Linked DNA regions of Homo sapiens: region 1 is linked to region 2. Evidence: fine-mapped expression QTL. A gene starts in region 2. The other region holds a variant in brackets. All regions are shown on one strand. Distances are from middle to middle.

Region 1 (10,227 bases), 27 kb after region 2:
GGAGTCACCGGAACTTTCACATAGGATCAGACCCGCGTTCTAGACTCAGCTCCATCCACTGCCCGACCTCATTGAATCTGTTTTCCCTTCTGTGGAATGGAATAAAATAGCAGAGGCCCTTGGAACTGAGTAAAGTGAGGAATTCTAAAAACACGTAGCATATCACGTACACCTTAAACATTTTATTTATTTATTTATTTTTGAGACAGAGTCTTGCTCTGTCACCAGGCTGGAGTGCAGTGGCGTGATCTCGGCTCACTGCAACCTTTCCCTCCAGAGTTCAAGCGATTCTCCTACCTCAGCCTCCCTAGTAGCTGGAACTACAGGTGCGCGCCACCACGCCCAGCTAATTTTTGTGTTTTTAGTACGAAAAGACGGGATTTCACCATGTTGACCAGGATAGTCTCGATCACTTGACCTCCTGATCCACCCGCCTCAGCCTCCCAAAGTGCTAGGATTATAGACAGGAGCCACCATGCCCGGCCAAACATTTTATTTTATGCTTGTTGGCCAACATTTGGGGTTTGAGCCAAGATCCTTCAAGCATGGGTTTGCTATGTAGAGGTCACTGTTGTAAAGCACTTCTGGAAAGATTGTCTACTATTTCCAGAATCTGCCTAGGTTTTAAGAATGATTCTTTTTCTTTTCTTTCTTTCTTCTATTTTTTCTTTTTGAGACAGAGTCTCACTCTGTCACCCAGGCTGGAGTACAGTGGTGCGATCTTGGCTCATGGCAACCTCCAACTCCCCGGTTCAAGTGATTCTCCTGCCTTAGCCTCCCAAGTAGCTGTGATTACAGGCACGTGCCACCAAGCCTGGCTAATTTTTAGTAGTTTCCTGTCCTATTTTTAGTAGAGATGGGGTTTCACCATGTTGGTCAGGCTGGTCTCGAACTGACCTCAAGTGATCCACCTACCTCAGCCTCCCAAAGTGCTGGGATTACGGGCGTGAGCCACCGCATCTGGCCATAACGTTTCTTTTTCTAATCTTTCATAGTGATCTCATCTATCCCTAATTGGATAGCAATTTCTTTTTCTTTAATCCATTTTTTCTTTAATTTTTTTTTGTTTGTTTTTTGAGACGGAGTCTCGCTCTGCTGCCCAGGCTGGAGTGCAGTGGCGCAATCTCAGCTCACTGCAAGCTCTGCCTCCTGGGTTCACACCATTCTGCTGCCTCAGCCTCCCGAGTAGCTGGGATTACAGGTGCCCGCCAGAACGTCTGGCTAGTTTTTTGTATTTTTGGTCGAGATGGGGTTTCATCATGTTACCCAGGTTGGTCTCAATCTCCTGACCTCATGATCCACCTGTCTCGGCCTCCCAAAGTGCTGGGATTACAGGCGTGAGCCATCGTGCCCAGTCTATTTTTTCTTTAATTTCTTTTCTTTTTTTTTTTTTTTTTGAGATGGAGTTTTGCTCTTTTTGCCCAGGCTGGAGTGCAATGGCACAATCTCGGCTCACCGCAACCTCCGCCTCCCGGGTTCAAGGGATTCTCCTGCCTCAGCCTCCCGAGTAGCTGGGATTGCAGGCATGAGCCACCACCCCGGCTAATTTTGTGTTTTTAGTAGAGACGGGGTTTCTCCATGTTGGTCAGGCTGGACTTGAACTCCCGACCTCAGGTGATCCACCCGCCTCGGCCTCAAAGTGCTGGGATTACAGGCGTGAGCCACCACACCTGGCCTTTCTCTTTAATTTTTAAAGCAGAGCTTTGAACAATGTTTCCAAAGCACACAGCTTAGTTTTGTAATACAATGACCTTCTTTCATGCGGCACTTGTAGCTACAGATTTGCATAACGTTTCTTTTAATTACATATGAATCAAGACACGTACAATGGGCAAAAACAGGTTTGGGAACAAACTCTCAGTCCATCCAGAGGGTGAAAGGGCCACAGGGCAACTACAGAGAAACACCATCTAGTGTTGGGCACCACTTAGTATATTTTACAAAGGGGAGGCAGAGTTGTGGTTAATCCAGGGACCAACGTGGGGAAGGTACATATTCACTAGCACTTTCCCCAGAACACCACTGTGAGGATAAAGTGTGGTGGCGGGTGTCCTGCTTAGCTACTGCCGAGTAACAAACCATCCCCAAACTTAGTGACTTAAACTGGTCATTTTCCTTTGCTTATGATTTTGTGGGTCAGGAATTTGGGAAAGGTTGAGCTGGGTAAGTTCATCTCTGATCCATGTGACATCAGCTGGGCTCTATGGGATTGGAGATAAACTTCCAAGATGGCTTCTTCCCCCATATGTCTGGTGCCTTGGTGCTCTTGGCACTCTTGGCCTCTCTCTCTGTGTCTCTCCCTGCCTCCCTCTCCCATCTCATCTCTCTCTCCTCCCCTTTCTCCTAGTCTGTCTCTCCTTTTCCACCTCCCCTGTTCTCTCTGTCTCCATCTGGGGCCTCATGATCCACAGCCTCTTCACATGGTTTGAGCTTACTCACAATATGGCTGCCTCAGGGTAGACAGACTTCAGCCCAGGTGGAAGCTGCTTCTCATGATAGCCTCAGAAATGTCAGACGTTACTCTGCCACATTCTATTTGTCAAGCACATCACTCATATCAGCCCGGATTCAAAAGAAAGAGACTCCATCTCTTGAAGGCAGCATGACACATGCATACAGGGAGGGAAGGAAGTGACGGCAGCCATCTTGGAGATAACTTGCCTTCATGTCCTGGGGATGCCGTAACAAAGTACCACAAACTGGGTGGCTTAAAACAACAGGAAACAACAGAAGTCCAAAGTTAAGGTATTGGCAAGGTTGGTTCCTTTTGGAGGCTCTAAGGGAAAATCCATTCCATGCTTCTCTCTCAGCTTCTGGTGGTGGCCTACAATCCTTAGCTTGTAGACATATCACTGCAATCTCTGCCTCCATGTTCACATGGCTGTCTTCTCACCATGCCTTTATGTGTCCTCTCCTGTTGTTATAAGGCCACCAGTCATTGGATTTAGGGCCCATACTTTGGTATGACCACTTTTTTTTTTTTTTTTTTTTTTTGAGACAAGGTCTTGCTCTGTTGCCCAGGCTAGAGTCCAGTGGTGTGATCACAGTTCACTGCAGCCTCAACCTCCTGGGCACAGGTGATCCTCCCACCTCAGCCTCTTGAGTTGCTGGGACTACAGGCGCACACCACCACACCTGGGTAATTTTTGTATATTTCTGTAGAGACAGGGTTTCGCCATGTTGCCCAGGCTGATCTGGAACTCCTGGGCCCAACCACACATCTGTCATCCACCTGCCTTGGCCTTCCAAAGTGCTAGGATTACAGGCGTGAGCCCTCATGCCTGGCCATGACCTAATTTAACTTAACTAATTACATCTGCAAATATCCGATTTCTAAAAGTCATATTCTGAAGTTCCAGGTGGACATGAATTTTGGGGGACACTGTTCACCTCAATATACAAGCAACCATAGTAGATGAGTCCTTAGTACATGCTTGACACCAGGTCCACAATCAGTAAACATAAACTTTGGTGAAGTCACCAGGTTTTGATCCCTGGTCTTGTCATGTCTCAGAGCCCATGAGGCCAATTTTAGCCAATTATACCCACAAGATTCAGGGTCTGGGAGATAGACGTCAAGTTGTTCCAGGATGGTGGCCTGGATAGCCCCTCTTCCTTGCCAAGCAGCCCTGGGAATCAGCTCATAGTTTAGAGAATTTGGGAACAGGATAAGGTAGATATTTTTTTCATTCAGGTCAAAGGGAACCACCCATGACTCATCCTTGTCTCCCAGCACAAGTGACTGGTGCACTCTTTGCTGACTCCCAGCCCTACCCTCCACTGTGCTAAATAATATTTGTGATAATAATAAGAAACCACACTTTGGGAGGCTGAGGCGCGCAGATCGCTTTAGGTCAGGAGTTTGAGACCAGCCTGGCCAACATGGCAAAGCCCCATCTCTGTTAAAAATACAAAAATTAGCTGGGTGTGGTGGCGGGGGCCTGTCATCCCAGTTACTCGGGAGGCTGAGGCAGGAGAATCGCTTGAACCCAGGAGGTGGAGGTTGCAGTGAGCTGAGATCATGCCACTTCACTCCAACCTGGGTGACAGAGTGAGACTCTGTCTCAAAATAATAATAATAATAATAATGATAATAATAATAAAATTGATAACAGCAGCTAACACATCTACCGCACTGGTGGAAGCACTCTACAAAGCTTCTTTAATCTTCATGTTAAAACCCTATGCAGGGCTGGGCACAGTGGCTCACGCCTGTAATCCCAGCGCTTTGGGGGGGTCAAGGCGGGCTGATCATTTGAGGTCAGGAGTTCGAGACCAGCCTGGCCAACATGGCAAAACCCCATCTCTACTAAAAATACAAAAATTACCTGGGCATGGTGGCAGGCGCCTGTAATCCCAGCTACTGCCAAGATTGCACCATTGCACTCCAGCCTGGGCGACAGAGCGAGGCCCCATCTCAAGAAAAAAAAAAAGAGGACTCTCTTCCCCTCGTTTGGCCTTGATGCCGCCATCTTCACAGTCCTGGGATATTTGTCTATGCGATTCCAGTCTTCCAACTGCACTGGCTGTAAGCGAGGCCAAGAGAGTGTCTCTCTTTAACACAGTTCTGCCCGAAGTCCCAGAGCTGGGTCTCATTGGTCCATTTCAGGTCACATGACTCGTGTGAGACAATCTCCTGTGTTCCCATTGGCTGGGCCGGAGTCGTGTGACCAGCTATGACTACAAAAGATGGAGTCAACGCACAGAAAAATGACAGGCGCGATCCCTGGGTCCCTTCAGTGCTGGTTACAGGGAAGAGGGTCTCCAGAGGCCCCCTGGGTCCAAAGAGGGAGGGTCCTCACCCCCTTCCCACACTGTTTCCCCAGGCCCTAAGCAGGATGCTGAGGCAGCCAAGAGGTTCATCCTGGACATGTACACGAGGATGTACACCGGGTGCGTGGACGGCCCCGAGGGCAGCAAGAAGGGCGCACGATCCCGACGCCTCTTCAGCCACTACACATGTGCCACAGACACACAGAACATCCGCAAGGTCTTCAAGGACGTGCGGGACTCGGTGCTCGCCCGCTACCTGGACGAGATCAACCTGCTGTGACCCAGGCCCCACCTGGGGCAGGCGGCACCGGCGGGCGGGTGGGAGGTGGGAGTGGCTGCAGGGACCCCTAGTGTCCCTGGTCTATCTCTCCAGCCTCGGCCCACACGCAAGGGAGTCGGGGGACGGACGGCCCGCTGCTGGCCGCTCTCTTCTCTGCCTCTCACCAGGACAGCCGCCCCCCAGGGTACTCCTGCCCTTGCTTGACTCAGTTTCCCTCCTTTGAAAGGGAAGGAGCAAAACGGCCATTTGGGATGCCAGGGTGGATGAAAAGGTGAAGAAATCAGGGGATTGAGGACTTGGGTGGGTGGGCATCTCTCAGGAGCCCCATCTCCGGGCGTGTCACCTCCTGGGCAGGGTTCTGGGACCCTCTGTGGGTGACGCACACCCTGGGATGGGGCTAGTAGAGCCTTCAGGCGCCTTCGGGCGTGGACTCTGGCGCACTCTAGTGGACAGGAGAAGGAACGCCTTCCAGGAACCTGTGGACTAGGGGTGCAGGGACTTCCCTTTGCAAGGGGTAACAGACCGCTGGAAAACACTGTCACTTTCAGAGCTCGGTGGCTCACAGCGTGTCCTGCCCCGGTTTGCGGACGAGAGAAATCGCGGCCCACAAGCATCCCCCCATCCCTTGCAGGCTGGGGGCTGGGCATGCTGCATCTTAACCTTTTGTATTTATTCCCTCACCTTCTGCAGGGCTCCGTGCGGGCTGAAATTAAAGATTTCTTAGAGGCTGCGTCGCCAGCGTCCTGTTTATCCCCTCTGCATTCCTTTCTCGGCTTACGTGTCCCGGGGGCAGTGCTTACAGTGCGGGGAGCAACGTGGAGTAGGAAGGAAAAAAGTTATACTTCTTGTCTACCCACCTGTCCTGGCCATGGTACCCAGAACTGTGGAGGCTGTGAGTCCCGCAAGCCGGGACGTGGAGTCCAACCTCCCTCCCAGGCTGGGGGGGACATTGAAGCAGACTCCTCCGTGGCTACTGACCTGAAATTCCAGTAGCAGCCCCCACCCAGCTTTGAGAAGGCCTCTTACTATCCTCAGGGCAGTGTTCTGGGGTGCAAGCCGTAGCACCCCACTTTACAGGTGAGGAAACCGGGGCGCAGAGAAGTGGAGTAATTTGACTAAGCTCACACACCTGGAATTGACAGAGGCAGGAGCCTGTTCCTACGTTGAACACATTTGTGGTTTTTTATTTGTTTGTTTTTTGAGACAATCTCACTTGGTTGCCCAGGCTGGAGTGCAGTGGTGCGATCTCGGTTCACTGCAGCCTCTGCCTCCTGGGTTCAAGTGATTCTCATGCCTCAGCCTCTGCAGTAGCTGAGATTACAGGCACCCGCCACCACACCTGGCTACTTTTTTTTTTTTTGATGGAGTCCCGCTCTGTGGCCCAGGCTGGAGTGCAGTGGCGCAATCTCGTCTCACTGCAACCTCCACCTCCCAGGTTCAAGTGATTCTCCTGCCTCAGCCTCCTGAGTAGCTTGGACTACAGTTGTGTGCCATCACACCTGGCCATATTTTTGTATTTTTAGTAGAGACAGGGTTTCACCATGTTGGCCAAACTGGTCTCAAACTCCTGACCTCAAGTGATCCGCCTCCCTCGACCTCCCAAAGTGCTGGGATTACAGGCATGAGCCACCACACCTGGCCTAATTTTTCTTCTTATAAAAACACTAGTCACACTGGATCAGGGTCCAGCCTGTCATCCCCATCTTAACTTGATTACATCGGCAAAGACCGTATTTCTAAATAAGGTCCCATTCACAGATACCGGGGGTTATGACTTCATC[A/C]TATCTTTGTAGGGGAGCCACATTTGAACCTATAAAAGGTATTTTGTAATACAAAAAGGAGCCGGGCGTGGTGGTGCATGCTTGCAATCCCAGCTAATTGGGAGGCTGAAGCATGAGAGTTGCTTGAACCCGGGAGGCGGAGGTTGCGGTGAGCCAAGATCCTGCCACTGCACTCTAGCCTGAGCGACAGAGTGAGACCTTGTCTCAAATAATAAATAAATAAATACATAAATAAATAAATAAATATAAAAGTATGTTATAGAAACCCTCTCCACTGAGTTTGGTCTGACATTTTGCTGCTGGTCAGACTGGGGTGATGGGTTTCAGGGAGGAAGACCTCAGTGGTGACAGCCCTTCTCACCACATCCTATCTTTCTGTTTTTTTTTTGAGACGGAGTCTCACTCTGTCACCCAGGCTGGAAGTGCAGTGGTGTGATCTCGGCTCACTGCAAGCTCCGCCTCCCAGGTTCACACCATTCTCCTGCCTCAGCCTCCCGAGTAGCTGGGATTACAGGCGCCCGCCACCACGCCTGGCTAATTTTTTGTATTTTTAGTAGAGACGGGCTTTCACCGTGTTAGCCAGGATGGTCTCAATCTCCTGACCTTGTGATCCGCCCGCCTCGGCCTCCCGAAGTGCTGGGATTACAGGTGTGAGCCACCGCGCTCTGCCTCTTGTTGTTGTTTTGTAAGAATTTTAGACTCACAGAAAAGTTGCAGAAGTTGTACACAGTTCCCAAATGCCCTCCACCCAGCTTCCTCTTACCTCTTACGTAACCCTAGTACAACCCAGGAAATTCACATCAGCGAGCGTCCTATGAACGAACCTGTGTGTAGACCTTACTAGAATGTGGCGGGTTCTCGCTCCCGTCCTCCTTTCCTGGACCAGGATCCAATCCCGGATCCCACATCGCCATGAGCTGCCTCCCTCTCCTCATTCTGGGGCAGTGCCTCAGTTTCCTTTGTGACACGTCGGAGGAGTTTTGCTTGGTTGTTTCTTGAGCCGTTCCTCAGGTTGGGTTGGTGTGAGGTTTGCTGGTGACAGAAAGGGATGTCAGAGCCACTCAGGGCATCACCTGACTGGGTTCATCATGACAAAGTGGCTCATCCCTGGCGATCATACGTTGCGGATGTCTTTTCACCATTGGTTGGTCGGAGTCAGGACCCAAACAAAGCCCGTGCGTGGCGCTTGGGTGCTGTGTCTCTTAAGTCTCTTTCCTCTTTTTTTTTTTTTGAGACGGAGTCTTGCTCTGTCACCCAGGCTGGAGTGCAGTGATGCGATCTCGGCTCACTACAAGCTCTGCCTCCCGGGTTCATGCCATTCTCCTGCCTCAGCCTCCTGAGTAGCTGGGACTACAAGTACCCGCCACCACGCCCGGGTAATTTTTTGTATTTTTTAGTAGAGACGGGGTTTCACTGTATTAGCCAGGATGGTCGCGATCTCCTGAACTCGTGATCCAACCGCCTTGGCCTCCCAGAGTGCTGGAATTACAGGCGTCAGCCACCGCGCCCAGCCTCCTCTTTTTTTTTTTTTTTTTTGAGACAGAGTTTTACTCTTGTCACCCAGGCTGGAGTGCAGTGGTGTGATCTCAGCTCACTGCAACCTGCACCTCCTGGGTTCAAGCGATTCTCTTGCCTCAGCCTCCTGAGTAGCTGAGATTACAGGCATGCGCTACCACACCTAGGTAATTTTTATATTTTTAGTAGAGACGGAGTTTTGCCATGTTGGCCAGGCTGGTATCGAACTCCTGACCTCAGGTGATCCTCCCGCCTCGACCTCCCAAAGTGCTGGGATTACAGGCGTGAGCCACTGTGCCCAGCCATGACCCAGTGGGTCTTAAGAGTTTTTTGACTGGGCACAGCGAGATGCTTTTAACTCATCCTTTACTTTGTCAGCTTCAGATCTGCACTGGATCGTTTCTCCAAGGAGCCCTCTTTCCTTTGAATGGGAGATGATATTTAGAGACCACAATCTGAGCACCAAGTGAGGAAACACATCTTGTCTTTTTTTTTATTATTATACTTTAAGTTCTAGGGTACATGTGCACAACTGTGCTGGTTTATTACATAGGTATACATGTGCTGTGTTGGTTTACTGCACCCATTAACTCGTCATTTACATTAGGTATTTCTCCTAATGCTATCCCTCCCCCCTCCCCTCACCCCACGACAGGCCCCGGTGTGTGATGTTCCCCACCCTGTGTCCACGTGTTCTCATTGTTCAGTTCCCACCTATGAGTGAGAACATGCGGTGTTTGGTTTGCTGTCCTTGTGATGGTTTGCTCAGAATGATGGTTTCCAGCTTCATCCATGTCACTACAAAGGACATGAACTCATCCTTTTTTATGGCTGCATAGTATTCTGTGGTGTATATGTGCCATATTTTCTTTTTCTTTTTTTTTGAGACGGAGTCTCACTCTGTCACCCAGGCTGGAGTGCAGTGGTGCAATCTGGGCTCACTGCAAGCTCCGCCTCCCGGATTCATGCCATTCTCCTGCCTCAGCCTCCTGAGTAGCTGGGATTACAGGCGCCCACCAGCAAGCCCGGCTAATTTTTTGTATTTTTAGTAGAGACGGGGTTTCACCGTGTCAGCCAGGATGGTCTCGATCTCCTGACCTTGTGATCTGCCCGCCTCAGCCTCCCAAAGTGCTGGGATTACAGGCGTGAGCCATCACGCCCGGCCTGTGCCACATTTTCTTAATCCAGTCTATCATTGATGGACATTTGGGTTGGTTCCAAGTCTTTGCGGAAACACATCTTTTGTTCGCTTATTTTTAGTGCAAAAATATTTGAAACCTACAGAAGTTACAAAACCATTACAATGTATTCCCCTGTATTTTTCATCCAGGTCAGGAGCCGGCAAACTGCTACCCACAGGCCAAATACTACTTCAATTGCTTTTGTAAAGTTTTATTGAAACACGGTCATGTCCATTCATGTACCTGTGTCTACGCAGGCTGTTCCTGCATCCATGGAATTGAGTAACTGCCACTGATACTGTCTGGCCCCAAAAGCCAAAAATATTTACTATTTGGCCTTTTTGTTTTGTTTTGTTTGTTTTTTACTCCCCTTAAAGACAAGGTCTTGCTCCGTCACCCAGGCTGGTGTGCAGTGGTGCAACCTCAGCTCACTGCTGCCTCCAACTCCTGGGCTGAAGGGTTCCTCCTGCCTCAGCCTCCCCGGGGATTCCAGGCATAAGCCCCTGTGTCCGGCCAGGTGTGAGTTTTCGAGTGGACATGCTTGCATTCCTCTTGAGTGTGACCCTAGCGACAGAATTGCTGGGTCATGTGCTGAGGTCATCCATCCATTTCTAACCCAGGGTTGGCCGGCAGCAGCCCCTCCGAGCTGGCTCCTGTGTTCTTTGCCAGGTCCTCCTCCCTCTGTGATCACGCCCTC
Region 2 (11,234 bases):
AGGCCGAGGCGGGCGGATCACGAGGTCAGGAGATCGATACCATCCTGGCTAACACAGCGAAACCCCGTCTCTACTAAAAATACAAAAAAATTAGCCGGGCGTGGTGGCGGGCGGCTGTAATCCCAGCTACTCACTCGGGAGGCTGAGGCAGGAGGATGGGGTGAACCCGGGAGGCGGAGCTTGCAGAGAGCCGAGATCTCGCCATTGCGCTTCTGCCTGGGCGACAGAGGGAGACTCTGTCTCAAAAAAAAAAAAAAAAAAAAAAAAAAAAAAAGATCCGAGTCGTCCGCAAATCCATTGCCCGTGTTCTCACGGTTATTAACCAGACTCAGAAAGAAAACCTCGGGAAATTCTACAAGGGCAAGAAGTACAAGCACCTGCACCTGCGGCCTAAGAAGACACGCGCCGTGCGCCGCCCGCTCAGCAAGCACGAGGAGAACCTGACGATCAAGAAGCAGCAGCAGAGCGAGCAGCTGTCCCCAGTGCGGAAGTGCGCGGTCAAGGCCCGAGTGGCGCGTTGTCAATAAAGCACAGCTGGCTGAGAAAAAAAAAAACAAAAAAAAAAACACCAAAACAAACAAACAAACAAAAAACACAGCCACAAAGAGCCAATCCACGGTCAGGAGGGAGTTGTTCCGGTGATGGAACTACATTCTGTATCCTGTTTATAGCAGTAATTTACACGAATCTCTACAGCTGTTAAAACTCATAGAAACCAGGCCGGGCGCGGTGGCTCACGCCTGTAATCCCAGCACTTTGGGAGGCCGAGGCGGGCGGATCACGACGTCAGGAGATCGAGACCAGTCTGGACAACATGGTGAAACCCCGTCTCTACTAAAATACAAAAAAAATTAGCCCGGCGTGGTGGTGGGCACCTGTAGTCCCAGCTATTCGGGAGGCTGAGGCAGCAGAATGGCGTGAACCCGGGAGGCTCAGCTTGCAGTGAGCCGAGATCGTGCCACTGCACTCCAGCCTGGGTGACAGAGACAGACTCCGTCTCAATAAATAAATAAATAAATAAATAAATAAATAAACTCATAGAACCATACACCAAAGAAAGTAAATACAATGCTACATAAATTTAGACAATTAAAAACAAGATCTTTTTTTGGGGGGGACAGACCCTTGCTCTGTCAACCCAGGCTGGAGTGCAGTGGGTCAATCATAGCTCACTGCAGCCTCAACCTCTCTGGCCTAAGCAATCCTCCCACCTTAGCCTCTGGAGTACCTGGGACCACAGGCATGAGCCACCACCCCCGGCTAATTTATTTTATTTTATTTTTTAGAAATGGGGTCTCACTGGGAAGGTGGAGGTTGCAGTGAGCTGAGACCGAGCCATTGCACTCCAGCCTGGGCAACAATAACAAAACACCGTCTCAAAAAAAAAAAAAAAAAAAAAAAAGAAAGAAAGAAAGAAAAAAGAAAAAAAGAGATAGAGTCTCACTATGTTGCCCAGGCTGGTCTTGAACTCCTGGGGTCAAGCAATCCTCCCACTTCAGCCTCCCAAAGTGCTGAGATTATAGGCATGAGCCAACATGCCCAGCTGAAATAGATCTTATTAGCAAAAAATACCCCCCAAACCCGGAAATAAATATTAATACCACAGAAGTCAGAATGATAGTTACTGCTGGGAAGGTAGAGATTACTATGAGGAAAACACTAGGGGTCTTTGTGGGGCTAAGGTCTTTTTTTTTTTTTTTTTGAGACAGAGTCTTGCTTGTCACCCAGGCTGGAGTGCAGTGGCACGATCTCAGCTCACTGCAACCTCCACCTCCCAGGCTCAAGCAATACTCCTCCCCCGGCCTCCCGAGTAGCTGGGATTACAGGTGTGCACCATCACACCTGGCTAACTTTTCTATTTTTAGTAGAGACGGGGTTTCACCATGTTGTCCAGGCTGGTCTTGAACTCCTGACCTCAGGTGATCTGCCCACCTTGGCCTCCCAAAGTGCTGGGATGACAGGCGTGAGACACCGCGCCCGGCCTGAAAATGTCCTTAGTCTTGGCCTCAGTGGATTCTGTGGATACCGGCTTCACAACAATTTATTAGGTAATACATTCAGGTTTTATGTGTTTTCTGAAAGAAATATTTTCTACACACACAAGCTCACCCTGGTGTTCCCAGCTGAGCTAATAATACACGACAAATGCTCAGCATGTGGCAAGGAAGTAGCTCAGCCCGTTTAGGGAACCGCAAGGGAGGTTTGTTCAGCAGCTGGAGAAGTGGGCAGAGCCTGGGCCCTGGATCCAGGGAGCCGGCTCATTAATTCTGAAGCCAGCGGGAGCCACAGAGGGTCTGCCACCCTGGTCCAGGCTGTGAAGATGGCGGGTGCTGGTATCCTGTCCAAAAATGCCGCAGGGAGATGCTAGGAGAGTGGCCCCCTGGGCTCACCCTGTGGGGCCTGTGGCTCAGCCTCGTCTCCCAGTTTTGCTGGTCATTTCTGTTTCAACCATCCTGGAAGATCTGCACGGCCATGACCTATTTCTGCGTTTCTTTGCCTGTCCTGGGTGGGACTGCCCCTCGTTGCTGCTATCCGGTTGGGGGCGGGAAGGTGGGTGGCTGGGTGGGCAGATGGCACCTGCCAGCCCCAGTGACCAGATGGGGGCCCCTATCGTACTTCCCATCTGTCATTCGTTATGAATCAACAGTGGAGAAAACCACACGTTTGTGCTGAGCTGGTGAAGCTGCGTCAACGGCTGTCACCGAGCCCTGGTGTCTGGGAGGAGGTGGGGACGGTGGCTGCCAATGGCTGTGTGGCCCTGGGCACGTAATTCGCCCTCTCTGTGCCTTGCCCTATCTGTAAAGGGACCAGAGGCCCCCGAAGTACAAGAATTACGTGTATCTCTTGGGGAGGAGAGTTTTGATCCAGAACTTTCTAGAATTTTCTACAGCCTGTCAATGGGGGTGGGGAATCTTCACCCAAACACTCTGGCTCTGAGTACCTAGGAAGCAGCAACGTTTCTACCAAGCTGCCAGCCACCAGCCCACCCCTAGGGCCCTGAAGTCCCAGAGGGATCAGGTCAGGGCGGCCTCATGGCACTCATTGGGAAGATCTCCTTGACCAGTGAGGTCCACTCCCAAAGTCCCTCTTACACCCGATCTGCCTGTCTGACTTCTGATCCTGAATATCACTTGTCTGTGCGACCTTTGTTGATCCATTTAGAGCAATGACCTTGAACCTTCCCCAACAACATCTCTGCTTAATTTTTCTGGCAGAATTTTTCACCATCCAACGGGCTCAGGTGTATTAAAAAATATATATATTTTACACGTGTGTGTATATATATACACACATATATATTTTTATGTATAATATACATATATGTATATTAAAATGTATACTTTTATGTGTGTATATATGTATGTGTATATATGTATGTGTGTCTATATATTGTGTATATATATGTATGTGTATATATGTATGTGTATATACATATATGTATGTGTGTCTATATATTGTGTATATATATGTATGTGTATATATATGTATGTGTGTGTGTGTATATATATACATAGAGAGAGAGGGAGAGTTTTGTTTTGTTTGTTTCTGGAGACAGGGTTTCACTATGTTGCCCAGGCTGGAGAGCAGTGTTATGATCTCGGCTCACTGCAGCCTCCATCTTCGGGGTTCAAGTGATTCCCTTGCCTCAGCCTCCCAAGTAGCTGGGACTACTGGTGCGTGCCAACATGCCCAACTAATTTTTGTATTAGTAGAGATGGAGTTTCTCCATGTTGGCCAGGCTGGTCTCAAACTCCTGACTTCAAGTGATCCTCCTGCCTCGGCCTCCCAAAGTACTTTGATTACAGATGTGAGCTCCCGCACTCACCTGGCCAAATTTTTTATTCTTTTATTTTTTATTTTTTTTGAGATGGAGTCTCACTTCGTCGCCAGGCTGGAGTGCAGTGGCACGATCTCAGCTCACTGCCACCTCTGCCTCCCGGGTTCAAGCGATTCTCTTGCCTCAGCCTCCCAAGTAGGTGGGACTACAGGCGTGCACCACCACGCCCGGCTAATTTTTGTATTTTTAGTAGAGACGGGGTTTCGCCGTGTTGGCCAGGCTGGTCTCGATTTCTTGACTTTGTGATCTGCCCGCCTTGGCCTCCCAAAGTATAGGGATTACATGCGTGAGCCACCAGGCCCAGCCTAAAATTTATTTTATTATCTGTTCTTTAACTAGAACCTTAGGTAAGGAGGTCTGGGATCTGTGTCTCTTGGCTACCGTGCCTGGCACACAGTTGGCGCTCCATGAATGCACGCACAATGAAGGGATGGCCCTGCCTGGAATCTGCCTGGTAGGCGTCTAGACTCTGGGGCCCCGCAGGTGAGGGATAGGCTCCCGGCTCTGCCTTGTGCCAGCCCCACCGGTCACTCCCCTGCTCTATGCCTCAACCTCCTCATCAGTCAAACAGGGATGACAGTAGTAACTATACAGGGTGATGTGAGTGTAAAACCAGCTAATGTGAGCCAAAACCCGGCTAATTTTTGTATCTTTAGTAGAGACAGGGTTTCGCCATGTTGGCCAGGCTGGTTTCGAACTCCTGACCTCAGGCAAGCTGCCCACCTCTGCAGGGTGGATCACCTGAGGTCAGGGCAGAGTCGCTGGAAACAGTCCATGACACCTGGCCTGAGCTGTTTCTTAAAAATATATCAGAAGGGCCGAGCGTGGTGGTTTATGCCTGCAATCCCAGCACTTTGGGAGGCCGAGGCGGGTGGATCACCTGAGGTCAGGAGTTTGAGACCAGCCTGGCCAACGTGGTGGAACCCTTTCTCTACTAAAAATCCAAAGTTAGCCCGGCGTGGTGGTGGATGCCTGTAATCCCAGCTACTCGAGAGGCTGAGGCAGGAGAATTGCTTGAACCTGGGAGGCAGATGTTGCAGAGTCAAGATCCTGCCACTGCACTCCAGCCTGGGCAATAAGAGTGAAACTCTGTCTCAAAAAAAAAAAAAAAAATATATATATATATATATATATATATATATATATATATATATATATATACACATATATATATATACACACACATATATATATGATATATATATAATGTATCAGCAGTAGCACGGGTCTGACGGTTCCTGATTGGCTCCGAGGAGGGGGACAGCTCCGGGTGAAGCCTGAGGAGAATCCGCCCCTTCTCCAGAAGGAGGAAGAAGGGCCCTGCTGGTCACACAGGACCCAGTCTGCGGTGGGGGTTTTCCCGCCACCGCCCCGCCCTCCCTGGGGCCCCCACCTCACCCTCTCCTGGCACCCTTCACCGTCAACCTGTCGGGCCGGGTCTGAGCAGGTCTGGAGGTGGGCGGGGAGCCCTGGCCTCCCCACCTCCTCCCGTCCCCACCCTGTTCCCAGCACTCAAGCCTTGCCACCGCCGAGCCGGGCTTCCTGGGTGTTTCAGGCAAGGAAGTCTAGGTCCCTGGGGGGTGACCCCCAAGGAAAAGGCAGCCTCCCTGCGCACCCGGTTGCCCGGAGCCCTCTCCAGGGCCGGCTGGGCTGGGGGTTGCCCTGGCCAGCAGGGGCCCGGGGGCGATGCCACCCGGTGCCGACTGAGGCCACCGCACCATGGCCCGCTCGCTGACCTGGCGCTGCTGCCCCTGGTGCCTGACGGAGGATGAGAAGGCCGCCGCCCGGGTGGACCAGGAGATCAACAGGATCCTCTTGGAGCAGAAGAAGCAGGACCGCGGGGAGCTGAAGCTGCTGCTTTTGGGTGAGTCCAGGGTCGGTGGGCGGTGGGTGGTGGGCAGTGGGCGGTGGCCAGCCGGCAGGGGTGTCGGGGCAAGGAGGCGGATCAGGCTAGGTCAGACATTGGCATCGTGGAGCCGTCGCCTCCTCCCAGGGAATGGGGAGCCTGGAACCCATTTTCCAGATGAGAAAGACTGAGGTTCAGAGAAGCCAAGTTCCTTGTCCAACGTGCGACCAGCGGCCAGGTGCCCAGGCCTGTCCACTGTGTGGGGCATATACAATAGCAGACGTGGCTCTACCGGGCCCCTGCCGGGCAGGCCCAGCACGCCCTACCTGTCTGTGTCATGGCGAGGGAATGATGAGCTCAGGTGTGCAACCCGTTCTGGCCAGCCCACCCGTAAGGGAGGGGCCGGCTCCAGCCTCTCCTTCACCAGGACGCTCCCTCTCGCCTTTACCTCCCTGCCATGGCTGGAGAGGGCTTGTCTAGGGCTCCTTTGGGGGCTAGAAAGGATGGATTGATTGGTTCATTGGTTCATTCATTCATTATTCATTCATTTAAGATTTATTGGGTAGCTCCCAGGAACGAGGCAGCCAAACAGGGGAAGATATTTCTGTCTTCCTGGATCTCATTTCCTGTGAAGGAGCCAAGACATTTAGTCTGTAAACTCATAAGCAGATAAAATAATTCTGGCAACAAGAATTATCTAGGAGAAAACAAAACAGGGTGATGGCTTCCATGCGGAGGCTTCAGATGGGGGAGTCGACGTCAGTAACGGTTCAAGATTCTGAACTCTGGCTGGGTGCAGTGGCTCAAGCCTGTGATTTCAGCACTTTGGGAGGCCCAGGCGGGTGGGATCACTTGAGGTCAGGAGTTCAAGACACAGCCAGGCCAACATGGTGAAGCCCCGTCTCTACTAAAATACCAAAAATTTGCCAGGCATGGTGGCTCATGCCTGTAATCCCAGCACTTTGGGAGGCCGAGGTGGGTGGATCACAAGGTCGGGAGATCGAGACCAGCCTGACCAACACGGTGAAACCCCATCTCTACCAAAATACCAAAAATTAGCCAGATGTGGTGGTGCGTGCCTGTAGTCCCTGCTACTCGGGAGGCTGAGGCAGGGGAATTGCATGAAACCAGGAGGTGGAGACTGCAGTGAGCTGAGATCATGCCACTGCACTCCAGACTGGCGACAGAGTGAGACGCCATCTCAAACAAATAAACAAACAAACAAAACCAAAAATTAGCTGGGCATGGTGGCACACAGCTATAATCCCAGCTACTCGGGAGGCTGAGGCATGAGAATCGCTTGAACCCAGGAGGCAGAGGTTGCAGTGAGCTGAGATCGGGCCACTGCACTCCAGCCTGGATGACAGAGCAAGACTCATTGTCAATAAATAAATAAATATAAATAAAATAAATAAATAAATCATGCCTGTAATCCCAGCACTTTGGGACGCCAAGGCGGGCAGATCACTTGAGGCCAGGAGTTCGAAATCAGCCTGGTCAACGTGGCGAAACCCCGTCTCTACTCAAAATACAAAAAAATTAGCCGGGTGTGGTGGCATGTGCCTGTAATCCCAGCTACTGGGGAGGCTGAGGCAGGAGAATCGCTTGAAACCAGGAGGTGGAGGCTGCAGTGAGCCAGGATTGCACTATTGCACCCCAGCCTGGGCAACAAGAACAAAACTCCGTCTCAAAAAAAAAAAAATTCTGATCTCTGAAACCTCGGGGTCTTCTCATTCCCGTAGCTTGTTTCCCCAATTACCTTTCCCTGATTATGGCCCCGTTGGCCTAAGCCCGGGATGCTAGCCTGGGAGGGTCTTCTGGGATCCCCGAGCTCTGGGTTGGGGGCTGGAGAAGGTCTCAAGTCTTCTGGACTCGCGTTTGTCTGCCCCGGGCAAAGAGCTTGATCATCCCGTGATGGTTGCTATCGTCCTTTCCTCGTTCAGTGGGAAGAGGCCGCCCGAGAGGAAAGAGAGAGAACATCGAGTGGGATGGTGGGGACCCCCAGGAACTGCACCTTCACTGGGGGCCCTTTCTTTCTTTTTTCTTTTCTTATTTTTATTTTTATTTTTTTGAGACGGAGTCTTGCTCTGTCACCCAGGCTGGGGTGCAGTGGTGCGATCTCAACTCACTGCAACCTCCGCCTCCCGGGTTCAAGCAATTCTCCTGTCTCAGCCTCTTGAGTAGCTGGGATTATAGGCACGCGCCACCACGCCCAGTTAATTTTTTTTTTTTTTGTATTTTTAGTAGAGATGGGGTTCCACCATGTTGGCCAGGCTGGTCTCGAACTCCTGACCTGGTGATCAACCCGCCTTGGCCTCCCGAAGTGTTGGGATTACAGGCGTGAGCCACCGCGCCCAGCCTCTTTTTTTTTTTTTTTCTTTTTTTTTAGATTGAGTCTTGCTCTGTCCCCCAGGTTGGAGTGCAGTGGTGAGATCTCAGCTCACTGCAACCTCCGCCTCCTGGGTTCAAGTGATTCTCCTGCCTCAGTCTCCTGAGCAGCTGGGACTACTGGTGCGCACTACCACACCTGGCTAATTTTTGTATTTTTAGTAGAGATGGGGTTTCACCATGTTGGCCAGGCTGGTCTCGAACCCCTGACCTCAGGTGATCCTACCACCTTGGCCTCCCAAAGTGTGGGGATTACAGGCGTGAGCCACTGCACCCAGTCAAGGGCCCTTTCAACTCTAGCCTTGATCCCTCTTACTGAACGAGATAAAAGAATATCTCAGCAGGGCATAGTGGTTCATTCCTGTAATCTTAGCACTTTGGGAGGCCTAGGTGGGAGGATTGCTTGAGCTTAGGAGTTTCAGACCAGCCTGGGCAACTTAGCAAGACCCAGTCTCTAAAAAAAATAAATAAATAAAATAATTAGCCAGGCATGGTGGTGCGCAACTGTAGTTCCAACTACTTGGGAGGCTGAGGTGAGAGGATCACTTGAGCCTGGGAGGTTGAGGCTGCAGTGAGCTATGATCATGCCACTGCACTCCAGCCTGGGTGACAGAGCAAAGCTGACTCTGTCTCAAAAAAAAAAAAAAAAAAATGCCGGGTGCAGTGGCTCATGCCTGTAATCCCAGCACTTTGGGAGGCCGAGGTGGGCAGATCATGAGGTCAGGAGGTTGAGAACATCCTGGCTAACACGATGAAACCCCGTCTCTACTAAAAATATAAAAAATCAGGGCTGGGTGCGGTGGCTCACGCCTGCAATCACAGCACTTTGGGGGGCCGAGGAGGGTGGATCACGAGGTCAGGAGATGGAGACCATCCTGGCTAATGTGGTGAAACCCCATCTCTACTAAAAATACAAAAATTAGCCAGGCGTGGTGGTGCGCACCTGTAGTCCCAGCTACTTGGGAGGGTGAGGCAGGAGAATTGCTCTAACTTGGAGGCAGAGGTTGCAGTGAGCCAAGATCACACCACTGAACTCCAGCCTAGGCAATAAGAGTGAAACTCCATCTCAAAAAAAAAAAATCTATCTATCTATCTATCTATCTATCTATCTATCTATCTATATTTGACATATTAATGTGTCATATTATGTCACATTATGACGTATCATATCGATATGTCTTATTATTTTAAATAAATAGGGCTACTTAGGCTATCTACTTCTTCTTGTGTGGGTTTTGATCATTTGTGTCTTTCAAATAATTTGTCCATTTTGCCTGTGTTATCAAATTTATTGGCATAACATTTATAACGTTCCCTTGTTCTCCTGCTACTGTCTGTAGGATCTGCAGTGATGTCCTCTCTTTTGCTCTTGGTATCGATCATTTCTGCCTTTGCTCATTTTTTTCTTGATCTATCAAGCTAGGGGTTTATCACTTTTAGTGCTCTTTCCTCGAATACCTCAAGGTCATTTATCCCTGACCTTTGCCTGGCTGGCCCTTTCACTCCATGTAGGTCTCAACCCAAGTGTCGCCTCCTCAGAGAAGTCTTCCCTGACTACCCTAGCTATAAAGACAGTCCTATCTTCTCCTTCCCCTTACTCTGTTTGATTTTTCTTCCTGGCCCTCACTATTTGTTCACTTGTTTATTGTTTATCTCTCCAGCTATACAGCAAGCAACAAAAGGGTAGGGACCACATCTGTCTTCTTCATCCCTGTGTCTCCAGCATCTAGCACAGGTGTACAATGAGCCTGCCATATAGTAGATGCTCAAGAAATGCTGAATGAATGAATGAATGAATGAATGAATCATTTTTGGGGAGAACTTCCCCCAGACACTGTATCATATCTTCCTGGAGCTGGGAAAGTCCCTTCCACATACCACTCTGGGCACTACTCAGCCAGCCTCAAAGCAGGAAGCCCCTTCTACTGATGGAGGGCAGGGGATGACATCCATGTCCCCAGGCACTGATGTAGCACTGTGGACTGTGGTTTAAACCACCTCATCCCTGGAGACAGGTCTGAGGGCAACCTCCAGACCTCTGTCCCTTCTTGGAAACAGGAATTGAATCCAAAAGCTGTTTTTTTTTTACCTGGAGGTGGCTGATCCTTTTGAGGAAGATGGCAAAAAGGACCAGGGTGGGGGTGGGTCTGTCCCTGACATGAAGCAACCCTCATATTGGGGAAGGGGGAGAGTCAGAATGAAGCCGTGAGCCGGGTATGGTGGCACATACCTGTAGTCCCAGTTACTCGGGAGGCTAAGGCAGGAGGATTGCTTGAGCCCAGGAGTTCAAGACCAGCCTGGACAACATTGCGAGACCCAGTCTCTAAACAAAAACAAAAAAAGAAAAGAAAAGAAAGTGAACAACAACAAAAACAGGAAAATAAAGCTGTGAAAGGGACCAGTTATGTCCTTAGCACTTTAAACATTTTATTTTTTATTTTTATTTTTGAGACAGAGTCTTACTCTATCACCCCGGTTGGAGTGCAGTGGTGCGATCTCGGCTCACGGCAACCTTTGCCTCCTGGGTTCAAGCAATCCTCTTGCCTCAGCTTCCTGAGTAGCTGGGACTACAAGTGTGCACCATCATGCCCAGCTAATTTTTGTATTTTTAGTAGAGACGGGGTTTCACCATGTTAGCCAGGCTGGTCTCGAACTCCTGACCTCAGGTGATCCATCTGCCTTGGCCTCCCCAAAGTGACGAGATTAGAGATGTGAGCCATTGTGCCCGGCCTGTTCTTAGCACTTTGAGGCAGGCACTCCTAGTTTCCCCCAAAGGATAAACTGAGGCTCAGAGAGGCAGAGCGACTTGCCCAAGGTCACACAGCTGAGACTCGCACCTAGAATTCTGGTTCCAAAGTCCATGCTCCTGACTGCCCTGTTCGCCTGCCTTGGGGGACAGAAACACCACAGAACCCCAGTGCCAGATGGGGAAAATGAGGCCCAAGGAGGCAGCAGGATTGATTGGGGGTCAGCAGCTAGTTTGAGCCAGAGCGGGACTGAGAGGCCGAGCCTCCTGCCCCTGCGGCTGCCTGGCCTGGCTCCCCACTTCCCCAGCAGCTGCGTTTCCTGTGAGGGCCTGGTGCTGGACTCTGTGCACATAGCTGGCTCCAGTTGCCTTGTGATGACTGGGGCTTGGCACGGTTAACCCAGTTCCTTCCTGGC

Evidence for each region. PIP is the estimated chance that this variant, and not a neighbour inherited with it, causes the effect.
Region 1: its variant is fine-mapped to the expression of GNA15 in whole blood (INTERVAL, PIP above 0.99).

Annotation. Positions count from the first base shown.
Region 1 is chr19:3,157,967-3,168,193 of GRCh38, forward strand. GNA15 (G protein subunit alpha 15) reads left to right here. Exons shown (of 7, transcript NM_002068.4): 7 at 4,827-5,783. The coding sequence ends at 5,053. Among named protein-coding and RNA genes, the nearest start is that of GNA15-DT, 7.9 kb to the left of the region's middle. RefSeq lists enhancers at 4,485-4,779, 4,583-5,444, 5,445-6,305. The variant A/C (reference allele first, on the strand shown) is at 6,835.
Region 2 is chr19:3,130,894-3,142,127 of GRCh38, forward strand. It overlaps GNA15 (G protein subunit alpha 15), which reads left to right and starts at 5,140. Exons shown (of 7, transcript NM_002068.4): 1 at 5,140-5,702. The coding sequence starts at 5,558. GNA15-DT (GNA15 divergent transcript) reads right to left here. Exons shown (of 4, transcript NR_110670.1): 4 at 10,683-11,234. It also overlaps the pseudogene RPL35P10. RefSeq lists an enhancer at 10,653-11,153.